2 separate regions of the Homo sapiens genome follow, and region 2 is linked to region 1. The links come from fine-mapping of genetic effects on gene expression. Tissue or cell type: whole blood. Region 1 holds a variant in brackets; the other region holds the start of a gene. All regions are shown on one strand. Distances are from middle to middle.

What was found. PIP is the estimated chance that this variant, and not a neighbour inherited with it, causes the effect.
Region 2: LINC02757 starts here. The variant in region 1 is fine-mapped to the expression of LINC02757 in whole blood (INTERVAL, PIP above 0.99).

The regions. Positions count from the first base shown.
Region 1 is chr11:76,648,842-76,658,137 of GRCh38, forward strand. It overlaps LRRC32 (leucine rich repeat containing 32), which reads right to left. Exons shown (of 3, transcript NM_001128922.2): 3 at 8,683-9,296. LRRC32-AS1 (LRRC32 antisense RNA 1) reads left to right here and starts at 8,155. Exons shown (of 3, transcript NR_199061.1): 1 at 8,155-8,315. RefSeq lists an enhancer at 4,928-5,451. The variant G/C (reference allele first, on the strand shown) is at 5,886.
Region 2 is chr11:76,626,167-76,635,462 of GRCh38, forward strand. LINC02757 (long intergenic non-protein coding RNA 2757) reads right to left here and starts at 4,256. Exons shown (of 5, transcript NR_187244.1): 1 at 4,025-4,256; 2 at 2,238-2,315; 3 at 407-1,059. RefSeq lists enhancers at 3,321-3,680, 4,139-4,433.

The DNA.
Region 1 (9,296 bases):
AGTCCCTTTCAAATGCCTGGGAGTGATCTAGCAATTCTATATTCATAATTTTGTATTCTTTGCGTTATAGGGGCCCCCTAAATTGTATAAACTTCAGGCTCCACAAAAACTGGATGTGTCCTTGGCTATGACAAACGTCTTCACGCTCAATTTTTTTTTCTATTTTTTGGCTACGTCTTTATTTCCTTAGGATAAACTCCTAGAAACAGAATTGCTAGATTAAAGCAGATGCACATTTTTAAGATTCTTGGAACGTATTGCCAAAGGGCCCTCCAGAATAGGTGATTTCATTTACACTCCCACTCTGCCTTGAATGAGAACAACCACAACTGGGGCAGTTTCTAAGGGATTGTGTTTCCTTGTTATTGTGACTTGGTTGTAGCTGACATTCCCACCTTTTCCCGAAAGTAGAGGTTTTGATCTGAGATCCACGGGATCTGTGGGTAGAATTCTTGGGGTCTGTGAACTTGGTTGAGAAAAAATTACGTCTTTATTTTCATCATTAGCTTCTCATTGAAATGTAATCATTCTTTCCATCTTGAATGTAGCCACGAATCCCCATAGTATTCAGAGTACAAATGACTTTAGCAGTCCTGTAACCAACAGAAATCACACGTTTTCCTGCCTTCTTACAGATCTCTCAGAATATCATTTATGCTCATCGGTGCTTCAAAATTACAGTAGTTATTAGACTTGCCACTAGATCTTGTTATGTAATGTGCTCATAAAGAACATGTATTACTAATTCACAATTTATTTTTTAATATTTTGATAAGCAGTCAATAGAATTGGTTTCCTTTGTAATCATGTGTATTTTTTATTTTATGAATTTGAAAACCTTATCCTGAAAAGAAGTCCTTAGGCTTCACCAGACTGCCAAGGCATAATAAAGTTCAGAACCCTTATTGTATGGGTCAACTCACATATCTTTAAAACTTACTGAAGGAAAGGAATTAAGCTTTCATGAACCCCTGCCTGGAGCCAGGCTCTAGGGGTACATGCTGGGGGTACAGAAGGGGCAGGATGACCTCCTGCTTTTGAGGAGCTCATAGTCTAGGTAGGACATGTGATTTCACAGCTCCTGCCACTCATTGTCCTGTGGGCTGAGGGCCCAGTTTCTCAGATCTTTCAGGATTTTAAGAAAAATTAGAAATCCAGATTTTTATATGTTCCCGTGTAAAACAACTCTTACAATTTTTAAATGTTGGCAACTAATCAAAATTTTTATAAACCACTGTGTGGGCCAAATAAAGCATGTCTGAAGGCTAAATCTGGCCCAAAGGCCACCAGTTTTCAACCTTTGCTCTAGGAAAGCTGAATTCCAGTGAGGGTGGGACAAATTCATTCTGTGGAACAAAGCAGCAGAGAACCTGAGCACCCCCACCCATACCCTACTCTGCTCCTGTAAACCAGGGAAACAGGGAACTGGAGTCTTAGCTTTGAGAAGAGAGGAAATGAGAGAAGAAATTCTATTGTGGGCAGTGGGATTCCCTGTAACCTGGGTGCAGGCCGGGTGAGGAAAGACATGGCTGGAGGTAGATGCTACTGTAGTGAGAGTGTCAAGGGAATTGTGGGAGCAATGAGGCAATTAAATTATTGTATATCTAGAAAACCTCAGAGCCTCTAGCAAATAAGATAAAATAACTGCAAAAGAAAAACATATTTGAATTATTAAGAAAAAATGATGTTATTAGATATAAGATAAATGTACAAAAACCAGTTGCTTTTCTTATTTTTGACAATAAATGCATAGAAACGGAAATAGAAAAAATATTCCCATTATGATATTGACAAAAACGATATTCAGAAATAAATGTAACAAGAAAGATATAGGGTCTCTATGAAGAAAGGTATACAATCTTGTAGCAACATAGAACACAAGATCTGAGGCTGGGCGTGGTGGCTCATGCCTGTAATCCCAGCACTTTGGGAGGCTGAGGTGGGTGGATCACCTGAGGTCAGGAGTTTGAGACCAGCCTGGCCAACATGGCAAAGCCCCATCTCTAATAAAAATACAAAAATTAGCCGGGTGTGGTGGCACATACCTGTAGTCCCAGCTACTCAGGAGGCTGAGGCAGAAGAATCGTTTGAACCCAGGAGGCAGAGGTTGCATTGAGCCAAGATTGCAACGCTGCACTCCAGCCTGGGTGACAGCAAGACTCCGTCTCAAAAACAACAACAACAACAACAACAACAAAAAAAGAGAACACAAGATCTGAACAAATGGAAAGATACATCATACTCTTGGATGGGAAGACTTAATATAGAAATGTCAAACCTTCCAAAATCAATTCCAAACAGAGTGCAATGATCTTGATGTTTATATGAAGCAATAAATTCCTGAGAATAGCCAAAAAGACATGAAAAATAGTAACAGTACAAGATGACTTGTCTTGCAGGTATCAGAACCAACTCTAAAACCAATCATTAGAGTAATGGTATAGAAACAGAGAAATAGATTAGTGAAAAAAAAAAGAAATCCAGAAATAGATCTCAAATATATATCAGAATTTAATATCTGACAGAGTAACCTTTTAATTACTTAATAAGCAATGCTTTCAAAATTACTATTCATTTTGAAGCAAGTAAAATTGGATGATTATTCAACTTCAAAATAAAAAACACATCTCAGGTTGGCTGGGCGTGGTGGCTAACACCTGTAATTCTAGCACTTTGGGAGGTTGAGGCAGGAGGATCTCTTGAGCCCAGGAGTTCAAGACCATCCTGGGCAACATAGGGAAACCCTCTCTCTATTTAAAAAAAAAAAAAAATCAACAACATCTCAGGTTATGTAAAGATTTAAATGTAAAATAAAAAACAAGATAACAATTTTGGTTTTTTTTTTTTTTTTTTTTTTTGAGATGGAGTTTTGCTCTTGTCACCCAGGCTGGAGTGCAGTGGCACCATCGCGGCTCACTGCAACCTCTGCCTCCTGGGTTTAAGCGATTCTCCTGCCTCAGACTCCTGAGTAGCTGGGATTACAGGCATGCACCACCAGGTTTGTCTAACTTTTTTTGTATTTTTAGTAGAGACGGAGTTTCACCATGCTGTCCAGGCTGGTCCTGAACTCCTGACCTCAGGTGATCCACCCACCTCGGCTTTCCAAAGTGCTGGGATTAGACATGTGAGCCATCGCACCTAGCCAACATAACAAATTTTACAAGAAAATTTAGGAGACTATATGAGCAACCTGAGTGAAACTTAATAAAATTGAGAAGCGATTAAGGAAAAGTGAGACCTTGGAAAACATTGTAGGCCAAAAGATACATAAGCAGGGTCAATAGACAAACGAATTATGGAAATGTGAGACAAAGTTTAAGATCTACAACATACAATAAGGATTTACAAATTAATAAGAAATAGTTAACTCAGTAGAAAAATGGGCAAAGGATAAAAATGGGTAATTCACAGAAGAGTTCATCCAAATGGCCAAAAATACAAATGAAGACGTGCTCAGCTCCAGCAGCAGGAAAATGCAATTTAAAGTAACAATGAGAGATCGTTTTATACCCACAGCTAAAACCTGCATTTCTGGTAGGGAGGCACAGGATAAGATACTTTCATACGTTGTTTGCGGAAATGTGAAACATTACTGTTTTTTTGAAATGCAAACTTTATTAAAAGTATATATAATATACATTAAAAGTGTATAAAATATATATATCTCCATTGATTTACTTCTAGGCATTCATTCCATGAGAACACAAACCCTAGAGAGTATAGGCATAGGAATAGAATTTTTTGCCTCATGTTTATAGTTAAAGAAAAGATAAAGCTATTGTTCATCAATAGGTGAATGGCTGAATAAATCGTGCAATATTCACGCTATGGAATATTATGTAATGTCAAAAATTATGTGAAACTTATATCAGTTTATTTCGGGGGATTTCCTTGAAGTACTATTGCATAAAAAAGCGAAATGCAAGAGAGTATAATAGAATATGATCCCATTTTTGTAAAATAACAATTAAAATCTCTAATACTTGCATATGTGTGTTTGCATACAATGTAAATGTGTCTGTCAGTGATTACTCAATTAAGGAGAAAACATACAGGAGGTTGGATACAGTGGGTTATCTGGGGTCAAAGGGGAGGGTAGTACAAGCTGACATGAGCAGTGTGGAAAGTGAGGAGGGAGACATTATTGGCTCATCCTCCACCAAAAAAATAAAATAAAATAAAAAAGCACGGGCCTTTGGAATTGGACTCCCTCATCCTGCAGCCTAGCTAGCCCCCTCCCCCCAAAATGCGTGACTCCCTTGGGCATCCCTCCCACCACCCTATACGTGGCCTTCCATGTGTTTTCCATGATGCTAGAATAGGGCAGTCAAGTCACCAAGTCGCAGGGAGGGGCCAGGGCTGGGGGGCTGCTTTCAGTGCATGAGAAAGGACCTCAGGGTCCAGAGTTCAGGCCCCATTCTCCCCAGGCGACTTGGCAAATTCATGAGAGTGAGTGGAAGAGGCCACGGAGTATTAATTGACTTGTTCTCTCAACTGAAGTCCTCCTTCCGTCTTAGCTGACAGGTCATGTCCTCAGAAAGGATTCTTCTGAGTCCCACCCCTCAGTGATCTTGCCCTTCACTCCCTTTCATAGCCCTCATTACAATTTGCCATCGTTTTTGTTTGTGTGTGATTAATGTCTATTTCCCAAGCGCCACAAGAGGAGGAACGCTGCCTGTGCAGCACCCAGTATGAGATGCGGCAGGGTCCCGGCAATGCTGGCTGCTTTCAGTCATTTGCTCACTCACTCTCTCCTTCATTGACTCAATCTTTTCTGCATTTCTTTATTCATTTTTTCCCTTATTCACTCCAGAAACATGCTATTGGTCCATGCCTTTTCCCGATCTGAATCTTCCGCTTTCTAGGGTGGCTTTTTCAGAGAAGGAGGGAGTGGGGACATGATGGCAGAATTCTGGGAATGCATCCACAACTTGGGAGGGCCTAGCTGGGTGAGTTGGAAGCTCTCCAGGGAAGGAGGGAAGATTTCAGAAGGCTGGAAGTCCTGAGCAGAAGGTGCTGAATGAGGAGAGAGGAGAAAGTGATGCGATGGAGGCTGGGCCAGGCAGACCCCTCTACTCCCAGACATGCCCTGGCTCTTCCTGCTGCCAGGCCTTGGGTCCTGCCATTTGTTCTGCCTGGAAAGCCTCTTCCCATCTCCACGTGTTGAAATCCTACCCTTCCTTGCAGAGCCAGCCCAGATGTCCTCGAAGTCTTGCCTCACTTCTCCAGCTGGAAGGGCTGCTCCCTGCTGCAAACAAACTTCCCGAGCACAAAATCTGGACCTCCCTCAAGGCGCTGACCACTTCCTGGCTTGGGTTGTGGTGTGGCCCCTCTCTCCACCCCATAGACAGAGGCTCTGTCCAACTGTTCCCTGTATCCCGCAGGGCCTAGGGCCCAGCACAGAGCAGATGCCCAAGCCACTCTGGCCGAACGAATGAGCAGTGCTGAGTTTGGGGGTGTGGGCGATGATTATGACCCCATTTTACAGATGCAGAAATAGAGGTGCAGCTAAGTGACGGTCTTGGCCTTGGTCCCACAGTGAGGAAGCAGCAGAACCTAGACTCAGGCCCGTGTTTCTGGTCCCAGAGGCCAGACTCTTTCCAGGGCAGCTTGGTGGGAGGTGAGGTAGGGTGGGGTGGAGTGAGACTGGATCCTGGGAACCAGGAGGCCAGGGAGAGCTGGAGTTCGGACGGCCAAGTTCACGGAAAGCGCAGCTGGGGAGGAGCCAAGGTATTTATTATGCTTGGTCTCCAGTTCCAAACAGAGCTGATGGATGGAGCTGCTCCAGTTCCTATAAACAGCTCGGGCCTCCCTCTCCCCCACCCCGCCCTCCCCATTCTCAGCCACCACAGCCCAACTGTTTCCAGTGCGATAGGGGTGGGGGT[G/C]GGGGGAGATGACCAAGAAGAGAAGAATGGGAGACGAGGGGGAGCAAAGGAGGGGGGGAGGACAAAGATAAGACGGGGTCCTAGAGGCCTGAGGAAGCTGCAGGGAATGGAGGGTGGTCAGAGAGGATTCTTTGCCTCCCCACTGGCCCCTGCTGCCGTGGGCAGCCCACAGTCTGCATTCCCCTGTCCTCTCTGTGTCCCCTAGGTCTGTTCAAAAAGCCTCCTCACCACACTCTCTGAGGGCTTGTCTCAACTCCACAAGCTTCTGAGTCCTGGAAGACAGGGGCCATTCACTCAGAAAACCTTTTCTGAGCTGGCTTTAGTCTGTGTTGGCTCACAGGCCCTGGGGACAGATAGGACTCCAGGTAGGACCTCCCCCCAGGACCTCCTGGCCTGGTGGGTGGGTCAGGCAGACACCCAATGCTGAGGGCAGCCCAGACCTGTGGGCAGCTGGAGGAGAGAAATCCAGACAGTCTCCCCAGAGAAGGTGATGGAGGTGATACAGGCGAGGGTGGTGAAGGAGATTGTGCAGGTGGGTGGGGGGGTGAGCTGGTTCCGGCAGAGGAGGCGGGAGAGGTGCAGGAGGCAGTGCTGCCTAATGGTTAAGACTGCTGGCTCCAGAGTGGGACAGCCTGGGTTCAAGTCTCATCGCTGGAGCTCAGTTCTCTAAAATGAGGATGGTAACAGTAGAAATCTCTTCAACGGCTGTCAGAATTAAACATGACAATCCACATCCAGTGCTCAGCATGGGCCCGCCCGGAAGTGCTCAACAATGGCCATCTCTGAGCATGTTGTGAGAGGTGGCGGGAGAGAGATGGGCCTCATGGGCTCAGTGAACTGCCTGAAGGACAGGGGCACAGAACACAGACGGTGGGTCCCAGATCCTGGAGGATGTGGCCAGCCTGTGGGTCTGAGAGGGTGAGTTGCTGGCGCGTCCCGGGACCCGTTCCTGGTGGAGTGCCACGCCAGCGCATGGAACCCCAGGAGTTGGGCCCTGCACCTCAGGCTGACTGTGACCTGGGAGTGGCAGGGCCTCCCCTCTCCCTGCAAGCTAAGAGCTCGGGAAGCTGGATGTTCTGATGACCTAGTTGGCTGCTGTGTCCACGTTTGGCTGAAAACAGGAATTTCTGCCTCACCGGGGGTCTTGGCCAGGTGAGCAAACTCCCTGTTTGTCAGGAAAAGGGGTCAGGGGCCTGCTGGGCTCCCTGCTGGAGCAGAGGCCCGCAGACCCTAGGCGAGCTCAGCCCAAGCTCCTGCTTTCCCCTTAGGCCTTCACGGAGCACCTATCGTGTGCCAGGGGGTGGGGCTCTCTCCTTTCTCCCCCAGCCCTACCCCATGAAATAGGTGTTTAGAATTTCCCTTTGCAGACTGGGAGCCAGGAGCAGGAATGGGGAGGTGAGAGGGCACGGACCAGAGAAACGGAAGAATCTCCAGGAGGCAGAGCTGCCAACGCTGGGCCCAGGGGCTGCAGGGCCAAGGGGAGGGGTCCAGGCTGACTCGGGGTGGGCAGGAGAAGCATCACTGAGCAGGAGCTTGGGGGAGAGGCAGTCAGGGAAGGGAAGGGCAAAGGCGCAGTGCCAGGCTGCTGACAGGGCGAAATGGAAGGTGTGAGGGCCAGAGGAATAAGCACCCCCTGCTCTGCATGCTCTGCCCTGGCCTGTCACGCCTCTCAGTGCTCCCCTACCCAGGTGAGGCTGCTTCTGTCCCACACCCGACACTCACCCTCCAACTCCAAGCCAGGAACCAGGTGTGGTTTTCTTCCAAGTTCAACCTTGATCTGCAGCCTGGCTGATCACTGAATTCTCCAGTCCCTGGGGACCTTTAGCCCTCTACCTGGGAAGGCCTCTGGGTAGCAGAATTGGACTTTCAGGAGAGGTGGGGCTGGAGACAGAGATGTGGGCCATCAGAGCAATGGGGTGTTTACAGCAATGAGGCCATAGTGTTCCCAAGGGAAAAGGGCTTAGGATGGAGCCCTGGCCATCACCACTTAAAGCTGGCTCAAGGAAGATGAGCAAAGAGTGGCCTGAAAAGGAGTGGCCTGGGAGGGAGGAGATGGCTTCCTGTGTGGGATCACAGCTGTGGGGAGAGCATGCCCAGCAGGGGTATGGGTGGGGGGCCTGCTGCACAGGGCCTAGGGAGAGGAGGTCTGAAAAGCGTGCTGAGTTTGGCAAAGGATACCCTTGACGCTGTTAGCAAGGGCAGCATGGAGCTGGGAGGGGCTGAAGGCAGCTCCAGGCGGGTTGAGAACGGGAGGGGCGGGAAGGGAAGTGACTTTACCAAGAACCTGGCCTGTGAAGAGTGGGAGGACGAAGGGGAAAGTGGCTGAGGGGCTTCTCACTATTTTTAAGACGGACAAGACTTGAGTCCAGCTGAAGTCTGAGAGGAAGACGTAAACAGGGAGAGGCTGGAGGCAGAAGAGAGCATGACGGGGTAAGGGAGAGAGGACGGGGCTGGGGACCCCAAGGAGGAGGGGCAGTGCAGCCTCTGAGATAGGGCACAGAGGGCTGAGCACAGAGAAGGGGAGGGGGCCTGTAGCTGTAGCAGGAAGGAAACAAACGGAAGCCCTCAGCCTCTCAGCCCTGGGGTGGGGAGCACAGTCGCCTGTTGAGTGTGGGGCAAGAGGTGTAGCAGGGGCCATGCTAGTGGCTGCGGCTTCAAGGTCCAGGGTGGTGCTGGCCCAGAGTCTCAGTGTCCCCAGGGATTTGCCATGATGATTGAACGACCGTAATGGGATTGAGCGGCAGGGTTCTAGTGGACGCAATGAAGCGGATTGCAAAGAGGAAGCTGGCAGCCACACTGCTTCTCCAAAATTAGTTTTTAATACATTCAGGTAGGTTATACAAAGAGTTGGTCCCGAGGCCTGGGCTGAGGCCTGGGCCCTGGGAAGTGACAGCAGCCCTGTGTAGTGTTTTCAAAGATCAGGCGTGGGGACCCACACCTTGGCCTCCAGGCCTAAGGAGGAGTGTTACGTGCAGTAGCACCCGTGGGTGTGATCCCAACCAGGACTGGGTCTGCCTGGGTGCTCCACACACCACCAGGGCCTAGCCCTGGCTCTGCCCATTGACTCTCCCTTAACTTCCTCTGGGCCTTGGTGTTCTCCTCTGTAAAATGGGGTGGAGAGAGTGGCATTTTCACTTTCTCGCACATTACTGAGCCCACATCATGAGCCAGACTGTGGGCCAAGCACAGGTAAGATGATGAAGACAGCAAAACAAGGTCTTGAGTTGGTCCCAGCACGTCCATTCTTCCCAGACAGCTCATGACTCCATGGTATGAGGGATGGGGGTCATCTGGGTGAGGCTTTTTACCTGTTTTTGTAAGAGGGAAAAAAGATCCTTGCATGATGAGGCACAGAAAGGAAGTTTGGAGCCAGCATTATCTTGTGATGTGATAGCTGAGAGAGGACATCAC
Region 2 (9,296 bases), 23 kb before region 1:
CAAGGGGAAGAGCAATGGACTCCATCTCCTGATGGGGAATGACAAGTTTCCAGGGTATAGAATTAGGAACACTCCTGAGATCATTTTTGGGAAATTTCAGTCTACCATAGGGACCTCCTCTTCTGGCCTCTCCTGGGTGGTTCCACTTCCCTGACCTGGCAGGACACTTCTGGGAGCTCGACCAATGCTGCTCCTCTCACCCCAGCTTTGGAAGCATAGATGTCAATGGGGGGAGGAGCAGAGCCAGTGAGTGGCTGTGTACTGAGCACTGGCTGCATCCCAGGCCCCCCCCGGGTGCTTGTGTGCCTTCTTTCATTAGATCCCCACCATACTCCCACATCATGTGCAGTGTGGCTCCTATTTTTTCAGTGAGGAAACTGAGGCTGAGAGAGGTGAGGTGACTTACCAAGACCACCAGGGCTCATCAGGGAGGCTGGGATTTGAAGCCAGGTCTGCGTAGCTCTGAAGGCCTTTTTCTTGCCACTGCACAGCTGTCCACAGGCTCAAGATAGGGAAGACCCCACAGGGAGAGGGATTAAGGATAGTGACCTTAGGATCAGAACAAATTGGGTCCAAACTGAAGCTCCTTAACTTTGAGCAGGTCACTTCATTGCTCTGAGCCTCAGTCTCCTCATGAGTCCAGTGGAGCTATGGCCTCCACATCACAGATGTAAGAAAACATAATGAAATAAAATAATATTTGCTATAAGCTTGGCACAGCCTCTGGCTCATCATGCATGGGACCCAGGCCACCCAGCCCCTTCCTAGACAGGACCTGCTTGCCTGTGGGGAGTGAGCAGGTTGGTGGCTGCCTGAGGACTGGGCCTGCTGCCACTCACCAAGGGGGAGCCCCTGGGTTCCTGTTGGCTATTTTTAGGACTGTGTGGGCAACCACAGAACCACATGTGGGGTTTACCACCGCTTGGCCAAGCCCGGAAGAACAAGAGAATGCTCCTGACGACAGAGGACAGGCATCTGAGGTGGGATGGGCCTCACTTCCTTCCCAGCATCTCCAGGTTGACAAAGGCAGAGAGCCTCTCCAAGCCTCAGTTTCCTCATCTATAAAATGGGGATAATAGTAAAAACAATAGCCCACATTTTTGCAGTCCTCACCATGTGCCAGATGCCAGTCAAGCCCTTCATGGGTGTCATCTCACGTGATCTGTGATTCCCGTGAGGGAGGCTGGAAGAGGCGGAAGTTGCTCAGCTAGAAGAGGGGTCAGAAATGGAACCAGGCCTGGCTCTTTTAACCACTCTGCTCCCAGCCTCTCCAAACAGACTAGAAGAAAGGTCACAAGGATTAGCTAAGAGTACGGATGTGGATGTCTTTTTTAAACTGTAAGAGAATGTCAACCAAACAGGCCCAGGAACAGGGACAATGTAGGCTAGGAGCTTAGGACTATGCTCCGTGGAGACGCCTCCAAAAAAATCAAGCTTTGAAAGCTACTACTGAGAGGTGGACTAAAGACCAGAGGTGGCAGCAAGATTTCCCTGGTCCACAGCAGTTCTCAGAGGAGCCCCAGACTCAGGCCCACCCACTTCCTCATTCACGTGGGTCCCTGACAAGCTTACCTTTTGGGTCCAGGAAACCATGTTCCTGGAAGAGCCACCAGCCATGGTTAGGACTCAGAAGTTCTGTAATTTCCCAACAGGAAAAGACAGAAAAGGGCAACAGGGCATGTGTGTGCCCACACAGACATTTGCCTGCGACCATGTGCACTCACACCACGTGAATCGCACATGCGCACAGGCAAATATACCTATCCACACACTCATAGACCTCCAGCCGCACCTGTTCACACAGGCACACACACACACATACACATCGCACCCATATTCCTGTATTAAGATGCACCTATGGAGTATGTACAGATGTTACACAAACATCCACACACATCCCATACGCTTAAATGGATCAGCATAAATACACAAACATGCATCTATGCACAAAGTATAAACACATGCAAATACACATATTTACATATGTCCAGTCATCATACACTTCCGTGGATAAACAGGTACATGTACTCAATTCACTTATTGTGTAAAGTTGTATACACATTGCAACTCACACAAACACATGCATGCATATACACACACGGGTATACATATGTGCTTAATAATGGTTGGCACAGATCCATAAGCATCCACATGTATATATCACCACCACGCATCATAGCCATCTGCATCAGCACATGCAAACTCGTGTGCACACACCTGCATGCACACACTCTTACCTGCATGCCTGCAGCTCGCCCATGCTGCACACGGTGTGTACACCTTGCCTTTTCTGGCTCCTTTGTTGCTGAGCGATCCTGCAAAGGTGCAGAAACACAAACACCTAGTTCCACTTCACCTGAAAACCCCCAAACCCTGGGTGCGTGGGAGGGTGAACCAGATGCCCTCCCTGTTGGGGGCACAGTGGAAATTATGACCCGAGTTGACTTTTACAACAAGAGCAAAGGTGAGGGGTTTTTCCACCCGGTTACCTCACTGTGTTGGGGCTGACCAGGGCCACCCCTGCTAATCCACCTCCTGTGGGCCCCTCCAATTACCCAGGGTGCTCAGGTTCAACACAGGCTCCACATCTCCTTAGTTTACTCAGCAGTTAATGAGCAAGAGCCTGGACCCACCTGTGTGTCAGGCCCTGGGCTGAGGGTTGGGCTGGGGAGATGCGGTGGATCTGGCCCGGCCCATGCAGCTGGAAGGTGGGAGGAGGCCTGGTTGGTGGGGTCTGTGGGAGGCTCTAGGTCAAATTCCTAAAAATGGATCTGCTTGATGACCAGCTTGCCAACTGATCAGGTTTTCAAATGACCAATTTGCCAAATATACCAAACTTACCAATTTACTATTCATTTTTTCCAAAGTATATAGCAATTGTATTGGATAGATTGACACTGGTTTTCATTTCATCTTCATAGTTCATTTTAAGGAATGTTTAGATGGTCAAAAGCTAAGTGTCAGGGAGTGGTTTCATTTAGTAAAGGCACTTAACATTTGGAATTGGAGAGGGACTTTCTGGGAACATCTACCAGGAATGGGGCATTCTGGGAGCTCTGTAGCAAGACAGGCCTTCAGGGACCACCTGACTCCCCAGAGCCATGTGGCCTGTGCCTGGGTTGTCCTCTGACTGGCTCTGTGTCCTGTGCCAGGCCCCTTCTCCTGTCTGGGTCGCAGTCTCCTGGCTATAAAGAGCTCAGCTTTTGGGCCTTGCTGATGTTTGATGAGACCCTGGAGCTACCTGTGACCTCAGTCTCCGAGTGTGGCCAGGGTCCAGGCCATGGGAGCCAGAGAAGCTGCTGACTCTGCTGAGGGCAGCCCAGCCCTGCTTGGAAGTCAAGGCTGTTGTGTTGGTGCCTGTATCTGAACTGTGACATTTCTGGGTCCTGTCCCCAGCCCCAGGCAGAGGGGCCTTGCTTGCTGTGTGCGGGGAGCATGGGGCTGCAGAGGGTGGGGCCCAACTAACTTTCCTTTCCTGGTAACACGCTTGCTAAGCTCATTTCCTTTTTCTGAAGGGAAATGCCATTGACATCACACCACTGGATTTTCAGTGACGCAAGATGAGAACTCGTGAGCCCTTCGCAGGCAAGAAGGGTGCACGTGTGGGCTGGGCACAGATCTGACCCGGGGCAGATTCGGAGAACCTCTGATCTGAGGCTCCTAGCCCTTGCTTTAGAGATGGGGACCCCTAGGTCAGAGAGGGGTAGAGACATGCCCTGGGTTCCACAGCCAGACAGCAGGGCTGGGGCCAGATCCCAGGCCCCTGTCTCCCAGCCCAGGGCTCTAGATGAAGGGGCCTGACTTGCCCTCTCAACCTATCTTAATAGTGGCACCAACATCCACCAAGTTGCCTAGGCCACAAACGGGTCTCACTGCACTCCTCCCTCCCAGCACCCTCCTCCTGGCAGCAGCACTCATAGCTGTCTCCTGCAGTCCATCACAGGCCACTCCCTGGCTCAGGCCACCTTGTCTTCTCCAGGACCCCAGTCCAGGAAATACCTGGCCACTGCTCAGGCCTCCCTACCTACATCCAGGCTTCTCCCTCCAGTCCATCTTCTGTTCAGCTGCCTGGGTGACTTGGCTAAAACACAGAGCCCACAGTGTCAGTCCCCAGGGCAACCCTTCCAGGGCTCCTTGGCTGGGCATCCCAGACTCTCCGTGGTGCTTGCGCCTCCTTCCAGCAGCTGCCCCTGACACGCCCCTTTGCTCCCTCGGTGCAGAAGCTGCCTGCCCTCTTCAGAGTGTGCATCCTCTCTGCATTTGCTGTTCCTGCGCCGTTTCCTCTTTGGGAACTCCTCCCTCTGCAGGCACGTTCCTGTTTTTGCTCACTCCTGAGGAAAGCTCACACGGCCCGATCTCCCTTCCCCCACCCCAGCCTTGGAGGGAACGTCTAGGTCTTCCTCCCCACCTCCTTGACAGCAGCAAAGACATTTTATTGTGGAAAATTTCAAACACACAACAAAAATAGTACAAAAACTACTGTGTATTCCTCACCCAGCTTCGACCCTCCCCGACTCAGGGCCACTCTTGTTTCATTTCTATCCCCCAACTCCTCCCCACTGGATTACTCAGAGCAAATTTAAACATCAGATAATTTTATCCACAAATACTACAAGGAGTTGGGCGCAGTGGCTCATGCTTATAAATCCCAGCAACTTGGAAGGCTGAGGTGGGCAGATGACTTGAGGCCAGGAGTTCACCACCAGCCTGAGCAACATAGCAAGGCCCTGTCTCAAAATAAATATTGCAGTCTGTATTTCTAAAAGATAAAGGCATGGCCAGAAACTATTATCCTGCCTACATTTTTAATAATAATTTTTTATTATCATAGTATATAGTGGTGTTTAAATTTCCCCAATAAACCAGGCGTGGTGGCTCACACTTGTAAGCGTGATTACTCCAGATTACTCCAAATCATGCTTCTAAGTATAATTACTCCCAGAACTTTGGCAGGCTGAGGCAGGAGGATCACTTGAGCCCTGGAGTTCAAGGCCAGCTGTCTTCCAAATAAAAAAATTCCCCATTGTCTAACAAAGATCTTTTACAGATCTTTTAAAGTTGATTTGTTCAAAATCAGGATCTACACAAGTTCCATACATTGCATTTGATCGTTTTCTCTTAAATCTCTTTCAATCTTTTCTACTTCCTCTCTCTTTTTTGGGGGGGGAGGGGGTGGTTTTTTTTTTTATTTTGAATCAGGGTCTAACTCACTCTGTCACCCACGTTGGTATGCAGTGGCATGATCTTGGCTCACTGTAGCCTCAACCTCCTGGGCTCAAGTGATCCTCCCACCTCAGCCTCCTGAGTAGCTGGGACCACAGGCATGCGCTACCATGCCTGGCTAATTTTTTGTAGTTTTTGTAGAGACAGGGTTTCGCCATGTTGCCCAGGCCGGTCTCAAACTCCTAAGCTCAAGTGATCCTCCCACCTCAGCCTCCCAAAGTGCTGGGATTACAGGTGTGAGCAACTGAGTCTGGTCTCTCCTTATTTTTTATTTTTATTTTGTCTTGAGACACTGTCTCACTCTGTTCCCCATGCTGGAGTGCAGTGGTGTGATCTCGGCTCACTGCAACCTCCACCTTCCAGGCTCAAGTGATTCAGCCACCTCAGGCTCCCAAGTATTAATAGCTGTGACTACAGGCATGTGCCACCACACTGGCTAATTTTTGTATTTTTTTTTTTTTCATGGAAGATGGGGTTTTGCCATGTTGCCCAGGCTGGTCTCAAACTCCTGGGCTCAAATGATCTTCCCACCTCAGCCTCCCAAAATGCTGGGATTTCCTGTTTTAAAAAAATATATATATATATATTTGTTGACTAAACAAAGTTGTTGATCCCATGTAGTTTTCCACCTTCTGGCTGCATTCCCCCATAGTGTTATTTAACACATTCCTCAGTTTCCTGCCTTTCCCGTAAATTGGTAGTTAGATCTAAACACTTGATTAGACTCAATGTGCTAGGAAGAATGCTTCATAGGTGGCGTGTCTACTTCCCTCAGAAGGAACATCATATTTATAATGTTTGGTTGTCTCTCCTTTTGTGCCTTTAGAAGGCTGTGATGATCATTGCCTATATCTATTATTTCATTAGAGAATTACAAAACAATGATGTTTTAATTTTATCATTCTTTCTTCATTTATTAGCTGGAACACTTCTATGGAGAAAAACTTCTCTCCTGATGCTTTGGTTCCCCTAAGGTACAATTGGTTTAGGAAGGACAGAACTAATGCTGGCTGATTTCCCCTTTACTTATCAGTTTTCAGAATAATGAGCTGATTCCCTCACAGTCTCTAGAGGTGATCAGCAAAGTTTTTTTTTGTTGGTTTTGTTTTTTTTTTTAAATTATTATCTAATATTTTTAAATGCATTTGAAAATTTTCAATTTATTGCAGTTATTAACCTTGTTGTCACTCAAATTGTCCCACCTTTGGCCCATAGAGATCTCTTGGTCATCTGAGTCCTTTTGGCCTGACCCTAGTGGTGTTTAATACTGTCCTGACTTTCTGGTATAACGAGATGTCCAGGTTTGTCTTGTGTTTTTTCCGCCTGGACCTGGAATTAGATATTTCTTCAAGAAGCCCTGGTTCTTTTTTACAAGAAGTGGCATTTAGAAACCACAAATCTGGGTGTGAGGTGTGAGATATGCTGAGTTGGTCTTTGCTTTTAGATCTTCTCAAGGTGCAGAGCTAGGAAATTTTTTTCTTAAGAAGATATATATCAAGGGTTCATATTGATAGTTTGAATAAAACCTTCAGCTATAGGGCTTTTACATAAGTATTTTGATTTTGTATCTGAATCTCTTTTGTCTAATGCTGAACATCTTGCTTCCTAACAACATTGACATTATTACTGATTCATTTCTCCTACTTTCTTTCTATATATACATATTATAAAAATATCAGAATAATAACACCAATAGTGGTATTAATAATATGATTACTGAAAATACTTTATAATTTGTCTGTGATTCTTTTATCCTTAGAATATATAGCCTACTAGTCAAGCTATAGTCAAGTTACCAGGTTTCTAAATCACTTAAAATAATTCAGCTTTGCTTGGTGAAGAAAACAATTCAATACACAGATTTATTGATTTCATTTTGCTCTTTATTTGGGGTGATTGCTTTTGACTTTTATTTAGATTTAATTTTGTTTTATTTTTATGGAAAGAATTTATGTACTTCTAAAGCTAACCTATATAATAAGGTATATTCAGAGAAGCCTGGCTTCTACTCCATTCCCTTACCACACTTCCTCCCCACTCCAGCAGACAACAATTGTTTAATTTTATTTTTTATCTTTTAACTGATACTTAATTTTAAAAACACGCATGTATTTGTGTATTCCCTCCTTTTTGTTGGATAAAACGATAACGTACTATATGCATTTTAGTCCACTCTGCTTTTCAGTTAACGTTGTACCCAGCCCGGAGGTCACACTGTCATGACACGCATGCAGAGATCTTCTTCATCCGCCCCCCCCTTTTTTTTTTTTTTTTCTTTGACGGAGTCTTGCTCTGTTGCCAGCCTGGAGTGCAGGGGCGTGATCTCCACTCACTGCAACCTCCGCCTCCTGGGTTCAAGCAATTCTCCTGCCTCAGCCTCCCAAGTAGCTGGGATTACAGGCATGCGCCACCACGCCTGGCTAATTTTTTTTGTATTTTTATTAGAGACGGGGTTTTACCATATTGGCCAGGCTGGTCTCCAACCCATGATCTTGTGATCCACTCACCTCGGCCTCCTAAAGTGCTGGGATTACAGGCATGAGCCACTGCGCCTGGCCTCCTTCCTTTTTCTAGCTACAGAGTTGTCTATTGTGTGGTCAAGCTGCCCCTACTGATGGACATTTGAGTGGTTTCTAGTTTTTTTACAATTACAAATGATGCTGCCATGAATAGCTTTATGAATCTGTCTTCTCTTATTTTTGCCAAGAGGGGATTGCCAGGGTAAAGGGTAAATTCAAATGTAATTTTGCGGCAAAAGTTCCCCTCCAGGTAGGGCTTGCACCATTTTGTTTTCCCACCAGACAATGTACGAGAGGGGCCTCTTTTCCCACAGTCTCGCCCACAGAGCACGTTCTCAAACTTTTGAGTTTTTGCCAATCTAATAGACTAGAAATGATATCTTGGCTTAGCTTTAATTGGCATTTCTCTGATTATGAAGAAGGTTAGACATTTTTCCATATGTTTACATTCTGGTTCATGTTTGGGTCCCTAGTGCCCAGCACAGGGCCTGGCACAGGTGAGTCCCTTCTCGAATGAAGGAAAGGAGGAACAGATGAACAGACAAGGAGGAAATGAACTTTGGAAGAGGGTCGCTGACTTGCCCAAGGTTGTGTCCAGTTATCACCGGAGTTGGGAATAGAATTAATCTCTTCTTTTTCTCTATGTCTAATTCATTTTTCCTGATTATAAAAATAAATAGAAGTTCATACTATTAAATAGAAAGTTTGGAAAGCACAGGAAAGTATAAACATATGAAACATTTTAATCTTTCTACCCTAACTCAATCATTTTCTAGCATTTTTGGATATTTCCTCCCAGATTTTATGCATTTTTTCCGTTACGATCACACTACATACATGCGTTTGTATTCTGTCCTTTTTCACTTAACACTTCTCCACATTAATAACAATTGTTTGCAAACATAATTTTAATGGCTGTACAATTTTTCACTATCTGAATATACATGAATGTATTTACCCTTGCTGTTACTGCTAGACTTCTAGATTGTTTCCAGATTTTTGCTATTATAAATAAATTCTGCCATGTTCTTCTTTGTCCACCTTCTGGATATTTGTCTCTCAGGATTAATTCCTGGAAGTGGAGCTCCTGGAATTTCAGCTTTGAGCTCCAAGTTTGGGGTTTTTCTTGGCCATGCTTGGAGGGGATTGTTTGTAGGAAGCTCTGGCCCTGTGACTTCACAGAGCCCCGGGCCTGGCCTGCTTCTCCACATCTGTGATGTTCGGTAGAGACTCACTTGCACCCACGTTGAATCAGCAGACGGGCAGAGCAGGGAGCACCAGAGCCTGCTGAGGATGAGGAGTCAGAATCTCTTACCTTTTGCCCCCTGGCTCATTCCTAAGGCTAAGGACAGATAACCTGCAACCAACAAGGGGAAACTGCACACGGACAAGGTCAAACCTGGTGGAGGGCGCAGGGCAGGTAGGAATGCTGAGCAGACGTGGTCTGTGCTTTGTAAGCATTCATGGTGCAGTGGAGCAGATGCTGGGGTCAGACCTTCCCATCCTGCAAAGGGTTCCATAATGGACCTATACACTGTGCCATCCACAGAAGGA